Regions from separate parts of the Homo sapiens genome. Here all the other regions are reported to be linked to region 3. The links are microRNA targets in miRTarBase. Many come from high-throughput screens and were not tested one by one. Region 3 holds a microRNA gene; each other region holds the end of a gene's coding sequence.

The links. The annotated mature microRNA hsa-miR-6508-5p reads UCUAGAAAUGCAUGACCCACC and lies in region 3 at 2,150-2,170, opposite strand. An mRNA with a match to its seed (bases 2 to 7 or 8) in the 3' UTR can be bound and repressed. Matches are read on the target gene's strand: a 7mer-m8 pairs with bases 2 to 8, a 7mer-A1 pairs with bases 2 to 7 and ends in A, and an 8mer does both.
Region 1: the mRNA of TMEM97 is a reported target of hsa-miR-6508-5p. Seed matches in the 3' UTR shown: 8mer at 1,589-1,596.
Region 2: the mRNA of PEAK1 is a reported target of hsa-miR-6508-5p. Seed matches in the 3' UTR shown: 7mer-A1 at 4,545-4,551, 7mer-m8 at 2,951-2,957, 7mer-m8 at 1,952-1,958, 7mer-A1 at 1,505-1,511 and 7mer-A1 at 1,415-1,421.

The regions. Positions count from the first base shown.
Region 1 is chr17:28,326,253-28,333,445 of GRCh38, forward strand. TMEM97 (transmembrane protein 97) reads left to right here. Exons shown (of 3, transcript NM_014573.3): 3 at 282-2,433. The coding sequence ends at 541. IFT20 (intraflagellar transport 20) reads right to left here. Exons shown (of 5, transcript NM_001267776.2): 2 at 5,607-5,735; 3 at 4,191-4,276; 4 at 2,921-3,024; 5 at 2,074-2,481. The coding sequence starts at 5,733. The coding sequence ends at 2,400. Among named protein-coding and RNA genes, the nearest start is that of IFT20, 5.6 kb to the right of the region's middle. RefSeq lists an enhancer at 917-966.
Region 2 is chr15:77,108,458-77,115,650 of GRCh38, forward strand. PEAK1 (pseudopodium enriched atypical kinase 1) reads right to left here. Exons shown (of 10, transcript NM_001385026.1): 10 at 1-6,862. The coding sequence ends at 5,699. Among named protein-coding and RNA genes, the nearest start is that of TSPAN3, 41 kb to the left of the region's middle. RefSeq lists a silencer at 5,792-5,980.
Region 3 is chr21:39,441,998-39,449,183 of GRCh38, reverse strand. MIR6508 (microRNA 6508) reads right to left here and starts at 2,174; the gene lies at 2,115-2,174. The region is part of intron 8 of GET1-SH3BGR (GET1-SH3BGR readthrough); the gene reads right to left. It overlaps LCA5L (lebercilin LCA5 like), which reads left to right and starts at 3,406. Exons shown (of 11, transcript NM_152505.4): 1 at 3,406-3,459; 2 at 4,983-5,049. It also overlaps a transcript of SH3BGR not described here. RefSeq lists a silencer at 3,236-3,495.

The DNA.
Region 1 (7,193 bases), not on the chromosome of region 3:
TTTTGTACCACACAGGTTTAACCGGTAATGGCAGTTTTATTGCCCTAGAGCTTTTCCGAGTTATGTTCTGACCCCCATTCTTGGTTCTTTGGCGAGCTGTCGGTGAGCTGTCACGTAAGTCTGCATGTTGGGCAGTGTGGCACATCCAGGTTTCCAGTTCCGAGTTTCCACTTGGAGAAGGGAGTAGAAGAAAGCAGGCAGGCAGAGACAGTGGGAAGGTCATGGACACCTTTGAGTCATGAACAGACCTAACCATTTTTCTTTTCCCCTGACTACCTCAGGAAGCTGCAAGTGGATTCGAACTCCTGCAATCATCTACTCTGTTCACACCATGACAACCTTAATTCCGATACTCTCCACATTTCTGTTTGAGGATTTCTCCAAAGCCAGTGGTTTCAAGGGACAAAGACCTGAGACTTTGCATGAACGGTTAACCCTTGTGTCTGTCTATGCCCCCTACTTACTCATCCCATTCATACTTTTAATTTTCATGTTGCGGAGCCCCTACTACAAGTATGAAGAGAAAAGAAAAAAAAAATGAAGGAAACAACCACTGGCCCAGGGTAGAGATGCCTACAGGGTGGTTGCTTGTTGGATACAATACAAGGAACACTGCTCAGAACCCACGTCTTCAGCAGCATTTGAAACACTGGCAGCAATGCACAAGAGCAAGATGGTGTCAGGAACCATGTCAAACCCTCACCTTCTTCCATTTTTTTTTTTTTTTTAAGACAGTCTCACTCTGTTGCCCAGGCTGGAGTAAAGGGCAGTGGCATGATCTCGGCTCACTGCAACCTCCGCCTCCTGGGCTCAAGCCATCTTCCTTAGCCTCCCAAGTAGCTAGAACTACAGGTGTGTACCAACACGTATGGCTAATTTGTTTTGTTTTTTTTGTGTGTGTGGAGACAGGGTTTTGCCATGTTGCCCAGGTTGGTCTCGAACGCCTAGGCTCAAGTGATCTGCCCACCTCAGTCTCCCTAAGTGCTGGGATTACAGACGTGAACCACTGGGCCCAGCCCAAACCTTCACCTTCTAAGGGCACTGGGATGAACAGACCGATCGGCTTGAGGGTGGGCAAAGGGGTGTGGGCTAGGTTATAAGGAAGTGGTACCAAATAACTGTGTGCCTGAGTTCCACCGCAAGATTACTAAAAGCAGGACCAGACCAGAAACTGCTAAAGAACATGGCCTGTTTGACATGTTCATGAGTCACCTGACCCACAGCATATATGCTTATGACTAAACCCTCCACTCCTGATTCTCAAGAGTGTATCACCTGTCAGCAAAATGAATAGTGGGATATTTTGGGCCATTTTAAATGTGAAATTTTGCCTCTTTAATGTTAATTCAAAACTATATCAATGTTTTCTTGTTCCCACCTCTAACCCAAGGAAAAAAGAGAAAACATACTATGCAAAGGAAGTTTAAACTTAAGTTTTCCTTAAGGGTCAGCCCAACAATGACTTTCAGTCAAATGGATTAAACTGGAAAATGTTTTTGTTTCTGTTGTAAACAGATCATCCTAGGCGAAAGTTTTTTTTGTTTGTTTGCTTTTAAATTAGTTTATTTCTAAATCTTAGTCTTCCACATTTCTAGAGGCCACCTGACACAAGTCCCTGTATCTGAAGTCTAGCATCTCAAGGCTGATCTGGAAGTGTGCTAGTATGCTCCCTAGTGGATAACTTAATCTTTTAATACAGTTCCGTCATTCCCATCTTGTTTTCAGAAGAGAAGGTGGCTACAGCCAGGCATAACATATCCACTGTGTGCATAGAGGGTCTCTTCACGTTGATGCTTGGCATTCCATCAGCTTTCTCTAAGTCTTTGCTCAAGTTCAACCTTAAAATGATGTTAGACAACAGGTCCCAGTCAGTTCCCTCTATTTTCACCCATTTTGCTCACAAGCCATATTGGCCCGATTAGTGGTACTGTCTGACTCACGTGTGTGATCCAAATAAAGGTAGCTGCTGACCACTGCCTGGTTTGTTTTGTGGACTAGGGGATAGAGAATCCAGGGTTCTCTCATGAGGAGTTAAACATATTTCAAGAGCAACAGGAAAAAAGGTACATCAAGCCATTTGAAAACAAAAATTTATTGCTTCTCCTTCCAAAGCTTTGTGAATTTACAAAAAAAAGGATGAAAGTTTACAAACTGCTTAGTTCCAACTAAGCATAAGAGGTGAGAACGTACACTGCAGGGCCACCAGCAGCAGCTGTGCACTGATGTTAAAACTGGCTCCCCCAGACTTGTAGTGCTGTCTTCAGGGGGCTGCATTCCTTACACGCCACCTCTTGTGACATAGGTCATTGGTCAAGCCGCTGGAATGCTACAGAGGTTTTTTTGGTTTTGAGAGGCTTTTTTTTGTTTTGCCTTCCTACTATAAAAGCGAAATTTTCAGTTCATTTCTGAAAAATAAATTGGTCAATAAATTCATTTTGTTCTGCTTCTACTTTACACAAAGCTTCATATTCAACCCGATACCTGAAAAACAAAATTGTTAGAGGCCCTGAAAAAAAGATGAAGTAAACCACAGACCTAATTCTTCTAGAGAAGGATATAGAGGTTTAAATGATTTCAAGAAATGGTGTGAGTTCAGAATGAAGAAAGAAAGAGGCAAAGCCCTACCCAGAGCCACCCATGAGAAATCTCCAGCCCTAGGAAAGTCTTCTTTCAGAGAGCCAGCCAACTTCGTGGACCCTTTCATGCTCAAACTACTAGAGGTGGTTTGATATTAACAAGTTTTCTATTTCCTTCCCATCAAATGTAATTTTATTTTTTAAAATCTTCAAATCAGGATGACAAGTGAGATGCTATTCCTGGGAAAACAATGATGAAGAATAAGGACAAGAAGTGATCATTCCAGAAGGAAGAGTGGAAATTCAGCTGTGTAAAGAACTTGCTTTACATCATGACTTCTTACCTTTCTAGCTGCATTTTCTTTTCTGCTATTAGGGCTTGAAGTTGCTGCTGTTGAGCTTCTCTCTGCTTTGCTATAGATTTGAGCAAGTTCCGAGCACCGATGGCCTACAGTATTGCCAGAGAAGGCCATGGCTTCATTAAAACCATCTACAGCATCAAGTCCTCAAAGTGGGGAGGGGTTATCTGGGAGCTGTGTCAGTCTTCAGAGAGGAAAAGAAAGTGGAGCCCCAAAGCTTTTGGGTTAAGTCAGAAGGATTAACCTACTGATCACAAAGTGCCTCAAGAACTAGACGGCAGCTTTGAGGCAGGTCTAGGAGTATTCCTAGAGCCAGGGACACAGGCACAATAGCACATTTGGTGGTGCCATTCAGCCTTGTGCCTTTCACCAATCATACTATGTAAGCCTTCATTTCTTCATTTATAAAATGAGGATAAGACCATCTACATCAGTGCTGATATGAAGATGAAACGAGGCCAGGTGTGGTGGCTCACACCTGCAATCCCAGCACTTTGGGAGGCCAAGGTAGGCAGTTCACTTGAGGCCAGGAGTTTGCAACCAGCCTGGCCAACATGGTGAAACCCCATCTTTACTAAAAATACAAAAAAATGGCCGGGCGCAGTCACTCACGCCTTAATCCCAGCACTTTGGGAGGCTGAGGCGGGCGGATCACCTAAGGTTGGGAGTTTGAGACCAGCCTGACCAACATGGAGAAACCCTGTCTCTACTAAAAATACAAAATTAGCCAGGCATGGTGGCACATGCCTGTAATCCCAGCTACTCGGGAGGCTGAGGCAGGAGAATCGCTTGAACCCAGGAGGCGGAGGTTGCAGTGAGCCAAGATCGCACCATTGCACTCCAGCCTGGGCAACGAGAGAAAACTCCGTCTCAAAAAAAAAAAAAAAAATACAAAAACCTCAGCTGGGTGTGGTGGCACACACCTGTAGTCCCACCTACTCGGGAGGGTGAGGTGGGAGAATCGCTTGAATCTGAGAGGCAGAGCTTGCAGTGAGCCGAGATTGCACCAGTGCACTCCAGCCTGGGTGACACAGCAAGACTCTGTCTCAAAAAAAAAAAAAAAATAAAGATTAAAGGAAATAAAGATTGGCAAAAGTTCAGTAGGTTAAGTGGACCAGAAGTTATTAAAATCTTAAATAAAAATTCACCCACCCAGCCCTCTACCCCTCTAAATAAATCAAGAGGGAAGAGGGATGAGAGGGTAGTGAACTAGGGTCCCAGGCCAAGATGTAGGCGGAAGACATGCTGATCTTACCTTCATCTTTTCATTTTCTGCTTCTTTTGCAAGTTGATCAACAAGCTCAATTAAACCACCAACTATTTTCTGAAACTGGCCAATTTCTTTTAGGAAAAGAACAAAAAATAAAATATTTCCTTAGTATCATCACTCCCCTTCGGTAGAGTGCTAAGGCAGTGAGAGGGCAGAGCGGACTGCCCCTTCTAATTTGTGTTAAAATAGTTCGGTGTGGGCCAGGCGTGGTGGAGAGCAACTGTAGTCCCAGCTACTCAGGGGGCTGAGGTGGGAGGATCACTTGAACCCAGGAGTTAGAGGATGTGTGATCATGCCTGTGAACTGCCACTGCATTCCAGCCTGGGGAACATAGCAAGACCCTGTCGCTTAAACACTTTGGTGCCTGTTGGCCTGTCTCCTACCCTTGGTCTGAACCTAGAGAAGGGTGGCCAGCTGGACCAGGGCATACTCGGACCTTGCATCCCCACTGAGCCAGCCAGCCGCTATGACCTCCGGCTATGAAAGCACTAGGCCCTTGCTGGGCTCATTCTCCAGACAGACCCCAACCCTGCTTCCCCAGGAGTGACAGGAAGCACTGTTGTTCACAAAAGGGCAGCCTCAGGACACAAGCGCTGCCTCTGGACTAGCTACAGGTATGACACCAGATTTCAATTAACAGTGGGGATGGGGGCTTCCCACTTGTAACCACAAAAAAGCAAGCTCACAGCATTAAGTGCCTAATCTCCCACTCACTTTCTCCAATGTCCTGGATGTGACAATTTACTGAGGGGAAACTAAGGCCCAGAGAGGTGTGTGCATGGCACAGCAATCACAGGTTAGTGACAGAACCCAAGCTACCTTTCACTAACCAAGCTCTCTCCACAACCTAGGAAACCCCCCAGAAAGCTCAGAAGTCCCTTGTTCTAGCTAGATCTGGCTCTGTACGGGCATTGGGCTTGCTTGGCTGCTGGGACAGGAGGCTTCCTGAAGATTTCCAGCCAAAAGATGACTTCAGTAAGTCTGTTGAGCTGCTTCTAGAAACTTCACCTATCACTTCTAACTCCAAATAACAGAGAACCTGCCCCTGAGAAGACTTTCTCTGAAGAAATCAAATCATGAGTACATAATTCTATTTCCCACACCCAAGCCATGGTTGTGTTCCCAGAAAGTTTAAGGTTTCTAAGAGCAAGAAATGAAAGATGGCATATCTAAAGACACCCTCCCCTCCCCATCCCGGTGTTTGGTTTGACTGGTGCCCTGTTGGGGACACATGAGAGCACAAGAGGGCAGACAGAAAAGGGTGGCACGTGGGAACTCACAGACGCCAGATTCAACCTCCAGGGAGCCAGCAGCTCCACTGTGGCAGGGCCAAGATGAGCCTGGGGTACAGTTGAAATGGCAGCTCAAAGCTGAGTGGCACTGTATCTCCCCAATACTCACTGTCCACAAAGTCTTTGCACTCTTCCTTCAGCTCTATGGTCTGCTGGGTAACCTCTGGGTCCAACACCCTCAGCTTGTTCAGTTCATCAAAGTGTAGCCCTGCTTCACCCAGGATGTCCTTGGCCATGGCTGTAAAGAAACAGGCCCAATTCCTCATCACTTCCCAGCCACCCAAGGAAATGCCTGCTGCCAAGCCAGCCCCACTCCTGCCCTTGGACACCAATGCCAAAAACCCAGGTGTTCCAAAGGATCCCCGTTCCCTCTGCCACCACCTCTCTGAGCCTCACCTGTTTCCCATCCAGGTTCCCTAGAGGAGTTCTGCTCTGAAGGAGTGACAGTGGCAGTCAGGAGGAGGTGTGTCATAGGAGCAAGGGTCAGGAAAGAATAAAGTCCGCTTGCTTGTCACAGGCATCGTTCATTCAACACACATTTCTTGAGTGCCTACTACATGCCAACACTGCTAGATGCTGGGGGTACAAAGATGAATGCAACACGGTGCCCGCCCTGAAGAGCACATAGTTCAGCTGGAAGAAGACAGACACGGAAACTGAAAAACCACACTGCGTTAAATGCTTGTTTAGAAACATCAGTAAAGAGCCAGAGGAGGACAGAGCCATTAATGAAGGAGTGACATGTGAACTAAGTTGTAAGCCATCAGTGTATTTACTTTATATATCACCAGTTATGTACTGAAAAGCACATGAAAAGGCTTCTCAAATACATATACTGGAACAACACAAAAACCAAATAAAGGAAATCCGAGTAAATTAAAAATTATGGTTAAAAAATAAAAAGTCAGGAGTAAGAATATTACTCAAAACGTATGCTTGCCTGAATTGGGAATCAAAGTTGGGTCATTCTCTTCCTAGCAGAAAACACAAAAAGGAATGAAGTATCAGCAAGAACATATCAAGGCAGGAGAACAGGGATAGGTATTCCAAGCAGAGAAAACAGCATGGACAAAGGCCTGAAGTCACTGAAAGGACCTATCTCACCTAAGGACGAGAGGAAAAAGAATGGAGCTGGAAAGGTGAGCTGGAGCCAGACCAGGAAGACCCTGCATGCCAAGCTAAGGAGTTTGGATTTTTTCTGTAGGCAACAGAGAACTAACAGAGATATCTTCTCCCTTACCAAGCCACCTTGCATTCCTGTTCCAAAGGATGCCTCAATTCTAGGAAGGAAATACTGAAAACTCACTCTTGTTCTGGCTCAAAACACACACACACACACACACACACACACACACACAATTAAACATAGACATCTTTATGACCTGTTTAAAAAGGGAGGCAATGCTACTTACATCTAGCAATTGGCTGCTATGCCAATTCTAAAACCCAGGTGCTCCAAAGTCTACCATCACCTGGACTTGCACCAGCCCCTTCCCTCTGCCCCCACTGCCCCCAGCCTCAGCTGTTTCCCTTCTGGCTTCCTTAGAGAAGTCCTGTTCTGAATGGGGTGATTCTGGGGTTGGCTGTCCAGGGCAGGTGTGCCAAGGAGGAGCAATGGCTGGAAAATAATCAAGTCTCACTGTTTCCAGAACTTCTGGTTTTTAAGATGACCAGAAATCCAGTACCTCAATGTTGG
Region 2 (7,193 bases), not on the chromosome of region 3:
ATGCCAAAATGCCCTGCATATCCTCAACAGAAAATCCCAACCCAGTGTGTTCATACATCACACTCTTTAGTTCTAACTGGTAAAGGAAGGGATAACCAAGTAGTATTTGGAGCAAGTTCCTGAAACAGTGTGGTTTAACCTTTCAAAAATGAACCCTATGTCTGGTTCAACATTCAAGTTATCATGAGTGCGGACACACACATACTATCCACACACTAACGGGCAAAGTGGGTTTTCTGTACTACAACAATATTCGTAGCAAAATATATGACTCTGTACTTCTGCTAGGTTAAAAAATGTCCGACCTCTTTTGATTCCCTGAAACTTTCTTGATTTAAAAAACAAAACCAAACCAAACCAAACCATGGGGGTGAATGGGACACGTCAAGATAAAAAGCTGGAATAAACCCAGAGACTTTCTGGAGTGGGAAACATGTAATGGGATGTTGGGAATGCAGGCCCTTGCAGCCCACCTAGGTGGGGAAAGCTTCTAGCAGTGGTTGATGCAAAAATCTATTCTAATTTTAAACAGTTGCAGGGAGGGGGTGTTTAACGGCTGTATAGCACCTTGTACCTTCTGGGCACTTACAGATATTAAATGATGGTGATGATGAATGGTACACAACTCTGTAGGAAGGTTTATAAAAACAATTACAATTTGTTAAGAAATTTCCCAAGAGTTCTTTAAACAAACCTATTTAAACTACCATATCTCTTTAAAAAAATCTTCCGCTCTCAGTATTATATGATGTTCTCAAGCTGAGGTTTGGGCAATAGCCACAGTCATGTCAAGGGGACATGGAAGAGATCCTTCTCCTTAAATACTGAGGAACTTTGTATCTGCCAGGGCTTTCTTCATCTTCATCATCATCATCATCTTCTAATATACAAAATGGACTTCTTTTTAAAAAGGTGCTTTTCTGAGGATGGATTTATCAGCTAAATGCCTTGACATGGAATGTATGTGAACTCCCCTCCCACAGCATCTGTCACAGCTCACCCTCATCATCTTAGAAGCATCAGGATAAAAAGGCTTGATTTCTTTGGTATAATCTCTCCCAGGATCTTGCACTGCAACTCTTCTGGCTTCCCTTATGGCACCGTTTTTGGTCCATGGAATCCCCACTTTTGGCACTGCTGTAAGCACGGACAGCTGGACTTCAGTGCGCACTTCAGCAAGAGCAGCACTTGGATTTGTCTCGGCACAGCACTTTGGGCCTTTGAGAATATGAGCTTCGATGACATAAAGCTAATAACTTGGTTTTGTGGGCAGCCATCCTGTTCACTCATTAGGCTGGAGCGGAATTTTCAATCCTTGTCAACTAGTGAGGAGAATGAAAAACATGCCAGGGTTGGCCCAGCAAGTCCAGTTTGTCTCACCCCTCTCCAAGAATGTTCATACTATATTTACACATCTAGAATCATTTGAAATATAGTGTAGTATCCTAAATCCATCTCTATTTCTGTGACTAGCCTGTACTTTTTCAGATCACTGCTGGTAAAATCTAGAAGAAATCCTAATTGCAGTCAAATCTAGCGAAAACCCTAATTCCAGCAAAACCAAATGTCAGGTTACTTCCCTGAACCAAAGTATTCATAACTCAAAATTGAGACGCTTAGTAGGACCCAAAGATCTTTCCTGGAAACTTTTTTTTGAGACGAAGTTGCTCAATCTCCCAGGCTGGAGTGCGATGGCGTGATCTTGGCTCACTGCAACCTTTGCCTCCTGGGTTCAAGAGATTCTCTTGCCTCAGCCTCCCGAGTAGCTTAGATTACAGGTGCCTGCCATCATGCCCGGCTAATTTTTGTATTTTTAGTAGAGATGGAGTTTCACCATGTTGGCCAGGCTGGTCTCAAACTCCTGACCTCAGGTGATCTGCCCACCTCGCCCTCCTAAAGTGTTGGGATTACAGGCGTGAGCCACTGCGCCTGGCCTGGGAACTTCATACTACTAGAAACTTTTAAGATATAATTTTTAGTAGTTTTACTCCCAGAAATGTCATTAATATTTCTAGAGCTTTAGATCTCTTGGCTTAGACTTTCCCATGTTTACAAACTTATTCTGAGTTTGGAAGCAAAAGTGACCCCCACTTAATCTGATAATGGGAGGCTACTCCAACTGTTAAAATCCTAACCAATATGTTTTACTTCTAGCTCCTCAACAGCAGCAGGGTAGGTAGGATGAGTGCTTGTGCCCTCACCTCAACCCATACCTCACCCAGTTCATCTTCTGAGGGCAAATCTTGAAACTCATTGCCATATTCCTGGCTTCCAGTTCTAGCTCAGCCTAGGGGTTGGTGATTCTTACGTTGTTGTTCCACAGGTTACAGTGACTCTTTTTCTCATCCTGCTGTTATTCTTCATGAATTGGCTTCTAGGCAACCCAGTAGTGTACATATACCAAAAGGGCTCACCTCAGCCAGCACAGGAGGCTTCTTGAAGTTCTAGTCCTCTTTATGAAACATCCACTGAATTGCTTCCAAGACTAGGTTACCACTCTAACAAGGCACTCTGCTATACATTCAGTCTTGCTCTTGGCTACTTTAGCCACTGTTGTGTTTCTCTAGCACCCAAGTGTCACAGAGATTGTTCATGCTCATGTGGCTTAAGGAAAAGTTCCAATAGGAGCTTAATTGTTCAAACTCTCAATATAAATGGAAAACTCTACAGTATAGACTTCAATAGAAAACAATTTCCAATCAATATTGAAGGCAATAACTTCCTGTTACTTGAGAAAATGTAAAGTGCTATACTAGTCACAATTCAAACACATAGATATATAAATGTGTGTGTATGTGTCTACAGAGGGTAGGATTTCTTTCCAGTTGATGAACAAATTCAAAGGTCCTACCACAATTAAAATGAAAAATATTTGTGATAATGTTAAACTGACTGAATTTCATTTTTTTGGAAAAATATTCTGAAGACCAACTCATGTAGTACTTTTTGCCTAGAAATATAGTTTCTTTCTCTATTCTGCTCTAACCTGTAACACCCCCTTCCCTCTCTATCTCACATTCTTTGGCCATCACCCAGAGAAAAATTAATCTAGCCACCTGTCTCTGGGAAGCCTGAGGCTTTTCTCTGGCTAGTTTGCATTCATCTTTTGCCCTTAACAAATCTGAATATAAAAACAGTACTAAAAACATCTGATATGAAGAGGTGCTTGGTTTACCAGTGCTGTAAGATAATGGTAGTGGAGGTGTCCATGCTTATTATACCATAGAGTTAAAGTGAAGACTGGATCCAAATCATAACAGAAAAAGAGAAAGAAAAAAAAAGATAAGTAGAGACATAACAAATAGAGGGACCAGGAAACATTCAGCATTAAATATGTAACCTCATTAAATAGTCAACATTGAAATTTACATGGGCAAGGCACCACGAACATGACATTGAGAAGGTATATCTCAATATGCAAGACATTGCAAGATGGGAGGTGGGGGAGGTTAAGGGAATGTGCTGGCTGACATGGTCAGTGGTCTGTGTGCTGCCCTTCAGTGCATAATCAGGCAAGGAGTTATGTGCACATGTTCTATGCTAAGATGAACCAAACACCAACCTTCAAGGCAAGGCGCGGCCATGCCACAGGACACCAAGAGCAGACTGCTGGCCTGCAGCAGCATGCCCACTCCATGGCCATTCCTAGGAGCAGAGCCCTGCACTCTGGCTAGAGGAGGCAAGACTCTTTGTGGGCTAACCAGCCTTCTTTCCTGTGAGTCCTATATTGCTGGCCAGGGGATAAGGGACATTCTCCAAATAGAGCCTCACATATTACAATCACTTAAAAAAGTAATAAGAGCACAATAAAATACATTATTTTCCTTTCCTGATCCTCTTTGTTATACATGAATCACATGAAAAGCTGTTAAAAATGTTAAAAGTTTAGAAATTTCCAAGGCCACTAATGTGCTATGTAAGTAATACTGCACAGTCAGTCTTGGCTTTAAGGAAACTCTGCACTGGTAGATGAGGGGCCTCAGGGCTCACTCACTCACTAGGCACAGAGAACATGTCTGTCAACCCTGCCACAGGTTGCTTTTCTAGAGGCCTGGCCTCTACTTCCAGCATGCGTGTGCACGCACACATGGGCACACAAGTGTACACACACATTGTTCGAGTGACTCTTGGGATTTCAAGGTCAAAGTAAACACATACTCACAGTTTTGAATAAAACAAGCACAGGTGAACATGTGTATACATACACACACACACACACACACACACACACACACACACACACACACAACCCCAGTGGAAGGAACGCTCATCTCTTAGCGCAAATATGTGCCAAGGGAAGAAGGGGGAGGGTTTCTGTAGACTCGCTTCAGGTGAAGTTGCAACATAAACACTGTAATATACAGCTAAAAAAATACATACAAAAATTGCACACATATCCATAGAAGGGGAGCACAGGCTGCACACATGGTGAACAGCTCTCAATCACCCACCTCAGCAATCAGAATTCCTGTGAGCTGTCCTCCAGAGCCATTTTACAGAGTCAGAAGGAGCAATGAGCCACTTAAACACTGGGAGGCAGTCTCTCTAGAAGAGGTCAACCTTCTGAGGAGGTCAGCAGTCTCATCAGTGGCCTTCTTCCTCTCCCCTGCCTACGGCCATCCCAACAGCCCACCTCACTGTGCCCTCTAAAGGAGATCTTAGAGCTCCACTGACAGCTATTTCATTCAGGGCAATTGTTTACAGCATTTGGTAAACTAGTTAACACTGGCTACTGATAGAAGGGAGCTGGCCAATTACTGCTCGGGGAAAACTGCAAATGCTGACAGTTCTGACAGTAATCAAAGGGTACTTTAAACTCTGTTTCCTGATGGCCCCTAGAGAATTGCACATGCAAGAAAATCATCTCCTCATGCCCTGCCAGCTATTTATAAGCTCTGAACTGCACTCCACCCTGCTGAGGCATTGGTGACACCACCTTGGGTCAGCTCTGTAATGGGCCACAAGTGGCTGATAAATCCAAACTTCACTGGCAAGTGGGGACAGAGTGGAGAATCAGGCAGTGGCAGCAGAGGGGAGACTATTAGGGCTGTCCTCCATGCAGTGCACATACTTACAGATAATGGCAATGAAAATGGGTCTATGACCCAAGGATGGGATCTCTCCTTTTCTTTCTACTCTCTCCTGGAACAAAAGATATAGTCCCTGGTAACCAAAACTGGGCTGATGCTAAGGATGGCAGTCCTGCCTAGTAAGTCAGTTGTTGACACCTTAAAGGAAGAGTCTGTTGTCAGAGTCTACTGGGTCGTGGTAGAGACTGGTTAAGTCTGTCTACTGCTAGTGAGAATAAATACTTGGTGCTAAAAAGATAGGTGATATCCAGAATTATGGAGGAAATGGACACAGCTCACTGGCTGAGTTCATACCAAAGAAGCTGTCCCTTCAAGAATATGGATTTTCATTTTTACCTGCATTTATGGGACTATTAGGATAGAAGGTGTTTCAAGGGAAGGCAACTGCAAGTTTGTGCAGCTGAATTTCTGTAAAGTTAAGACAGACTCAGCTTCTCATTCAATCTGGGGCAGTGGATAACCTTTCTGAATAGACCCACTTGTTCACGGACAGGGATAGAGGTTTGCCTTTCTTCTTTCCTTGAATTTGGAGTGAGCACTAGGGAGGGGAAGTGCATGGGTGACATGAAGAAGGTGAAGATGTAGTAAAAGCATCATCCAGGTACACATTAACGGTGCTGCAGAATTTTCACAATACAACTGAGGGAGTCTGTAGTGGCAAAAGCCAAATACTGAGCACAAAGCCAGTCCTCAAGGCTGATTCCACCTTCCCTGTCCAGGGACTTCTCAGCAAACTTGATCATGAGCAGTGTTCGCTTGATGTCTAGCCAGTTTTGGAGCAGGGTGTTCCTCTGTACTAGGCTAGGGCAGGCGGTGAAAGTCTGGAAGAGATCTTCGCGGGGGCCCCAGAGCAGACACTGGAGGATGCCTTTGGCGTCTGAAATGAGGATCCGCTCAGAAGGGTTGGGATTCAGGAGGCAGCTGGCCAGCTGCTGCAGACCCCGGGAGTAGGGGGAGCGGAATGGGATGCGAGGCAGGTCTGCTCGTGTGTATTCCCTCTCCTTCAGCTCTGGGTTCTCATCAAAGGGGTTGGGTAGGTGCAGCATCTCATAGATGAGGATGCCTGTCTGGAACTCATCACACTTTTTATACTGGGTAGCTGTTATGATCTCTGGGGCAAGGCGAGACTGGTCCCGGAGGATCTCGGGGTCCACCAGATGGCTCTTCTGCTTGGCCTGAGAGAAGTTGCTCACTATAAGCCTAGTGGGATAAGATGAGGTGGGGCTGGGCTCTGCAGGCCCAAAGCCTTGGGCAGTCCCCCCAGGCTGGTAGTGGACAAGTAGCAGGTTCTCTAGGCGTAGATCGCAGTGAGTGACATGGTAGGGTTTGAGGTGCTCAAGACCAGAGCATAGCTGTAAGAGCAGCAGACACACCTGCCTCTCATACAAATCAGGGCTTTTCCCATGCTGGGCCAGAGAGTCTCGCACAAAATCAGCCACAGTAAGACATGGAACCTCCCTGGTGATGACCACAACGTGGCTCCTCTGCTTCTTGCTCATGACTCCCTGATTCTCTTTCTGGGATGATGCTGCTTCAGAACAGGGCTTTGGGTTTTTCCCATCCGTTTCTCCTTTGGCGTCTTCTTCAGTCTCTTCCATGTCATCCTCATCCTTTTCAGGGTCATCTGGATCCTCCCAGGGAAGCAGACGGTTAGGGACTTCAGCAAGGAAATGACCACAGTCCTGCTGAATGTTAAAATGGACAGCCAGACTCTGCCGGACAGCCAAGCTGTGATAATACTGCTGAGATTCTTTAGCTTTGCTCTTACAGATCTGAAAGATAATAAAACAATTCAAAACTCACACTCTCATAACCAGGTTTATGATGTATCAGGGAAGATTAACTGGAAGGTGACTGGTTAGGGACAAACGATCATATAGTAAAGTTGTTCGCAAGGCTTGCCCCATGTTAAGTGGCAATAATAATGGTGGTAACCATTTCTCATGGTTGTCTACATGCCAGGCTGTGGTGAGCACTTTAAGTGTACCATTTTTAGTCCTCACATTAACCTTTCACAGTAGATTGAGGATCTAAGAATTTAAAAAAGAAAAAAAGCCCGGGGTTATGTGTGCAAACCTAAGTTTGTTTAATGCCAAAGCCTGC
Region 3 (7,186 bases):
TCTACTAATATTTATGAGGAAATTCAGGCATGTGTGCAGTGGGTAAACATATATGTATCATACATTCCATGTTCACCTTGGGGTGGAGTTCTAGCATTAAAATGGGATGGAATTTGGCTCTTTATATCAACAGGTGAACTATAGGGCACAAAGACATTTTATGTGCAATTTCTATAAGCTGGCCAAAATTGGCTGGAGGTCTGCAGCTGTTTATCAATAAAGAATGTTTATAAGACCAGTCCTTTGTCCAACTGGAGTTGTAGTAGGTCTGCAAGGCGTTTGGGGGTGGGGGCGCATACTGAGGGAGGGAATGTTTCCATTGGCTGGCATCAGGCAGTCTATCGGGGTCAGTTGGAAATTTTCCAGCTGAAGTTGTGTTGGCTATGCTTTTTCGAAGCTGGTTTCTGCTTACTTAATAGCAGTTAATAATGCAAAAATACGTAACTAACCCCTCATCCTTCTGGCTGTGACATTCTGGAGGTTTTGTTTTGTTTTGTTGTTTGTTTTTTGTTTGTTTCTGTCACCAGGCTGGAGTGCAGTGGCTTGATCTCAGCTCATTGCAACCTCCACCTCCCACATTCATCTCCTGCCTCAGCCTCCCGAGTAGGACATTCTGTTTTTGGTGCATCTCATTTTAGGAAACAGGAGTTCATTTTGTCCGTCTGTTGGAGTATATTTTAACAAGTCAAATAACATCACTTTTTGATTTGATTAATTTTGATTTAAAGACATGAGGTACTGGGCTACAAACTTCATAGAGACCCCCAGATGATCTCATGATAAATGATACCAGATGATATGTTTTGATTTACATAACTTTACAGATAACTTAAAATGACAAATAAAGACACGTCTTTATTATGTAGAATGATGGAAATGATTACCATAATAACTGTAGTGGGTTGAATATTGTTCACCAAAATTCATGTTCAGCCAAACCTCAGCATGTAACCTTATTTGGAAATAGAGTCTTTACAGATGTAATCAGTTGAGGGGGTCTTGTGATTAAATCATCCTGGATTTAGGGTGGGCCCTAAGTCCAATGACTGGTTGTCCTTATAAGAAGACAAGACAGGGAGACACAGAGAAGAACACCCTGTGAAGATGGAAGCAGAAATTGGAGTGGTGCTGCCACAAGCCAAGGAATAGCAGGAGTCCCCATAAGCTGGAAGACTCAAAAAATTCTCCCTAAGAGCCTTCAGAGGAAACATGGACTTTCAGACAACTTGGTTTCATACTTCTGACCTCCAGAAATGTGAGAAGATAAAGTTCTATTGTTCTAAGCCCCTAAGTTCGTGGTAGTCTGTTATGACATCCCTAGGAACCTAGGAACCTAATATAGAGAAATAAAGGCTATGCTTTTTATGTGGCATGATGGAGATGGCCCCAGAATAGTGAAAGGCCATGGCTCTTCTCCTTCCATTGTGTACACAGAAAAGAACACCCCTTCGAAAGCAAAAGCAAAGGCCAGGCACGGTGGCTTATGCCTGAAATCCCAACATTTTGGGAGGCCGAGGCGGGCAGATCACTTGAGGTCAGGAGTTCAAGGCCAGCCTAGCCAACATCGCAAAACCCCATCTCTACTAAAAATACAAAAAGAATTAGCCGGGTGTTGTGACTCACACCTGTAATCCCAGCTACTCAGGAGGCTGATGCAGGAGAATCACCTGAACCCAGGAAGCGGAGGTTGTGGTGAGCTGGGATGGCGCCACTGCATTCCAGCCTGAGCGATAGAGTGATACGTCTCAAAAAAAAAAAAAAAAAAAAGCAAAAGCGAAAGCAAAGAAAGATTCAAGGGCAGATTTGCAGTGACTTATCATGTCTACAGACTGGGAAAAGCTGGTAGAAAAGAGGAGGAAACCATTCTCAGGAAACTCTACCTTTCAATTCCTCCAGTCATGAGCTCCAGGGTTGGATGCTCCCGCAATGGCAAAACTCCGCTCTCGTTACTGTCATGGGGCCACCACCACCCACCAAGCATCAGCCCATCTTTCCATAATGTCAAGTCTAGAGTGACATTTGTCTAATGTTTGCCTACCTGGAGATGTTGCCCCGCCCACCACCACCAGCAAAAACAACCGGCACCCATCTTATACGGATAATTCCCTACCTAAGGAGTTCTAGAAATGCATGGCCCACCAAAACTCAGGGTGGGTCATGCATTTCTAGAGGAAGAAATGGTGATATGGAGAGAAAGCTTGTCCTAACCCACTTCTACCAAAGTAGGATTAAAGTCAATTTGAAAAAAAACACCCGTTTCTCCTTTTATATAAAAACCAAATGCAGAAACTATAGAGAAATGTAATAAGCTTGACTCTACACAAATACCAAAATACACTGTAAACAAAATTAAAGGTAACTGACAAATTGAGGAAATATTTGCAACGTATATCACAAGCCAAGTTTTCAAGCATCAAAAGTCCTTACAAAACCCATTTTTACAAAGATGAATGTCAAGTTTTAAAATGGACAAAAGACAGGAAAATGCAAATCACACAATAAGGACAAATGGCACTCAAGATATGGGAAAAAGTCTATTCTTCCTACTAAAAAGGAAGTGAATACAATTAAAGATGCCAATTTTTGACAATAAAATGGGCAAAAAAATTTTAAGAAAAAAGAGAATTTCCAATGCGGGCCAAGTATCGGGACACTTACTGGAAGGCAGTTTCCCTCTACCTTTAGAAAGCCTCAAAGTGAGCATATGCTTTGGCCCTGCAACCTCGCTTGTAGGAATTTATCCTAAGGAAACAGTCAGGGGTGACCTCAAAGATTCATCTGCAAGGATATTCAACATGGCTTTGATGCAGGAAAAAAAGTAAATAAATAAAAGGAAACAATGTAAGTCTTCCTAAATTATGCCAAATTCCTATGCTGTCATTAAAAAACATCTATAACTCCATCATCTAGGTGATTTTGACTTTTGCTTTGGACTTGCCTGTACATTTCTAAATTCTCTATGCCAAACATGCATTGTTTTGTCATCAGATTTTGTTTTACAAAAAAAAAAAAAAAATCGTCTTTATGACAAGGGGTTAATAGGGGAACTGTGCTTCCCAGGAATTGACCAGGCGTCTACACCCACCTACTGACTCAAGTTACCTAAGACTGACAGAGCCTTAAGAGGTCAGGAGAGCGCCAGAGCGCGTGACAGGCTCCCTCGTCTCGGTGCGGCCACGCGGGAAGGCAGGGTCCCGGGCGCCGAACAGGGACGGCAGGAGGATCGTTTACAGACGTCTACACAAGAAACTCACTTCCCGTCACCGAAGACAAACGCGAGGCCACACTGACCTCCAGGCCCAAGACGCCCCTCCCCGCCGCGGCTCCTGCTGCCCGAGTGCGCATGCGCGCGCCCAGCCCCCGCAGGCCGGCGCTTCCCAGGAGGCCCCGCGCGCGGGTTTCCATGGGGACGCGCCGGCGCTGCGGCGTTGGCGCAGTCGTGGGAACAGCGCGGAGCAGGTAACGGCCCCGCTGCTGCCGTCGTCCCCCTCAGCCGGTTACCCTGTTACAGCCCCAGCTCTGGGCCCTTCCGGACCCTCCTGCTACGCTCTTTCTGGGCTTCCAGTATCGCCGGTCACTCAGTCCTCGCCCCTGCCTGCCTCGCTGGCGCCCCGCCGTTTCCTCCTCGCGGCACAGTTTGCCAAGGAACAGCTACCCCGGCTCGGCAGTGACCGGGCGCCCCGGCGACACACGTACTCTCAGGCCCGCTGGGCAGGGGGACGGCCTGGGCCGAGGTGACCTAGCGCTCCCGGGGCCGCGCCTGGGTCTGGCGAGGGGGCGGAGGCCGATCTCACCGCCGCCCCACCGAGGGAACTTTGGGGTTTTTCTATCTGAATCTTCTATCTGACCTCCGATTTTGCCTCTGCTTACTTGCTGTTTTGCTTTGGATTAGTTTTTCTTTCTAACCTTAGCGCTGGCATCTCCCTATCTCGTAGGAATCTAAATCTTTTGAAATGTCTTCTCTGTCTGTGTTTGTCCCCCACTCACCCAGCCTCGGGGCTCTTTATCCACACCCTCCCCTCAGCGTGTTAACGTTTCGTTGCCACACTTAAGCCAACGGTTAACTTTTTTCAGAGACCAGTTTTCACGGCTGAATGTGAGCTTGAGCCTTTTTTCTGTCTACACTCAATCCCTAGATGAACTCATCCAGTCGCCTGTACTCAGAGCCTATCTGAATTCCAGTGAGCCCCAAGTGTGCATTCCCAGCCCTCGCCCCTCCCCTGAACACCAGATCCCTGCATTTAGCTGCCTGCCACATCCCTACTTGGATGTCTACGGCATCTCAAACACAGCTCGTCCAAGATAGCGCTCAATAATTCCCCAAGCCAAGCCTGTCCTCCCACAATCTTAATCCATCATAGTTGCTGGAAATTCCATCCTCCAGTTGCCCGAGTCTTGCATCCTGTTTGAGTCCTGTTTTTCTCTTCCTCACCTTCAGTCTGTCAGCACTGCCTTCAAAATGCACCCAGAATAGATTCACAATTCTACCATTTCTCTCAACCGCCACTGTCACCACCTTGGTCCAGGCCCCCATCATCTGGTGCGTGGATTATTTTACTTGCTTCCTAATTGGTTTCCCTGAGTCTGCCCCTCCCCCACTTGAGCATGACAGTCTTAATGGTATTTCCCCGTTCTCTGTTATTTCGTATGAGTAAGTTTTTTAAAGGATTATATAAATTACAATTTCCTTATATAAATTACAACTTCCATAGGTAAAAGTGCAGTATTTTCAGTATGTATTTTGCAAATTGCAACTTTTAAACCGGGTCAGCAAGGCCATATAAGCATCCTGCTAACAAGCTAAAAATGTAAAGACACCCCTTAGCTTTGTTAGGTATAAATATGACAGTGCCCCTGGAACAGAACTATGGCAAGAGCTTTACAAGGGACTGTCCTGAAGAACAAAAGAACCCAGAGCCTTCTTCCCAGCGCAAAGACAGGAATCATGTAGGAGTTTAAGCTCTTCCTTTTTTATTTTTTAGAGAAGCACCAAAAGAGGCAAACTGAGATGCAGACAAATGATCATCCGTATGCTGATCATTTTGAATAGTAAGTACCTGGGTGCTGATACCGCGATCAATGTGACAGGTCCCTGCCCTCAAGGAGCTAAGGCCCCTAGCCAATCTCTCTTTTTTTGTTGTTTTTTTTTTTTTTAAGACAGAGCCTTACTCTGTCGGCCAGGCTGGAGTGCAGTGGCAAGATCTCGGCTCACTGCAACCTCCATCTCTGGGCTCAAGCAATTCTCCTGCCTCGGCCTGAGTAGCTGGGATTACAGGTGTACGCCACCATGCCCAGCTAATTTTTGTATTTTTAGTAGAGATGGGGTTTCACCATGTTGGCCAGGCTGGTCTCAAACTCCTGACCTCAGGTAATCTGCCTGCCTCGGCCTTCCAAAGTGCTGGGATTAAAGGCGTGAGCCACTGCGCCCGGCCCTACCCTTGCCACTCTCTTAAACTCCTAGCCCCATCTTTTCTCTTTTGCCATCAGGTAAAACCCCAATTAACCAAAGTAACAGAGTAGGATTGCCACGGTTAGCTGAGGGTCTGTAGGAGATTGCATTTCATAAATGACCATTTTCCTCAGATTTGATCTCCCACCACGCCCTTGTGCTGTCACTTCATAGAGAAGCTTGAAGCTGTCACATGGGAATCCCCTCATTCTTCAGCTCCCAAAACTGCAAGCCTTACTTATATCTGTTCCTACCTTCCTTCCTCCTCCTAACCAAGGCCACTCCCTCTCCGTGCTTTGGATCCCATCGCTTTCCACTCGCCAAAAACTCTACCCTGTCAGGTATACATTCCCTCTCCTGTATGATCACCTGTTCCATCTCAGCTGGCTCTTTGCCATGGTTTTGAAGCATGTTCAAGTCTCCCATCACAAAAGAGAAAAAAAGAATCTTCTTTGACCCCACGTTCCCCTTCAGTTTCCAGTTATTGTCCAATCCCTTATCCCTTTCGACAGGCAAACTTTAAAGAACTGCCATATTCAATGCCTCTATTATTTGTCTCTCACTCCTCAGCCAGTATGGCTTCCCTCTTCATCTCTGCTAAAACAAAAACCAGGAATGAGACTTTTTCAGGCTTTGTCTTGCTCAATCTCTCAGCGGCATCTGAAACTGCTGCCCCCATTTCACTCTACAAACACTGTCTTCCCTTGGCTTCTGTGACCATCCCTGACTCTTCTGCTTTTCCTGCTGCCATTCTGGCTCACCCTCCTCTCCCAGGCTCCTTAATATTGGAGATTCTCAAAGCTCGGCATCTGTTCCCATTTTATTCTCCATTGCGCCCCTTCATCTAGCACAAGGCACAGATTCACACGCACAGCTTTTAAGTTCCAGCCCTGTGCTCTTGACTCCTACCTTTCTCCAACTTGACCCTTTCTCAGCTAGACTCGTACGTTCAGCTAGCTGCGTGACAGTGTTTCTTAATACCACTCAGTCTCCTCCAATTCAACATGCACAAAACCAAACAACCCCACTTCCCAACCCCAGCTGGAACCTCTTCCGTTGTACCTAGGATTCCTCCTTGACCCTTATCACACCCCAACACCCAGTGAATCCTTAAGCCCAGGTGAGGTTGTCTCCTGGGCATCTTTCACATCTCTTCATTGTCGTGGACACCCAAGTGCAAACCACCACCTTCATTCAGCCTGCCGCAGTCCTGTACCAGCTTGTCTCCCCACATTCCCTCTGGCTTTTCTCGATTCTTCACCCTGCAGCCAGAGTAACCTTCAGAAGGCAGAGCTGATTATGCCACCCCTCCCGCCTCCCTCTTTTGCCTACAGTTAGCTTCCCATTGCCCTTGGATTAATGATCCACATCATAAACACGCCTTCCGAAGGCCCTGCAGCTGTTCACCCCCGCCTGCGTCTCAAGACTCATCTGAAACCGCTGGCCCTTCTCACTGGGCTTCAGCCACATGGGCCTCCTCCACCCACCAGGCCTTGGCATTCTTTCCTCTCTGTCTGCATTGTTTTTCCCTCCTCCCTCTCATCCTCTCTTGCCTAATTAGTTCCCACTGACCCTTCCTATCTCAACTCAGACAGTACTTCTACAGGGATAACTTCCCTGATCGCTGTCAGGATCAGGTTTCTTTATCTTCACAGAGTTGTATCTCCTTCCTTGAAGACACTCTGGACAGTCACTATTATGATTAGTTCATTACTGACATAAGGCCCACAAAAATAG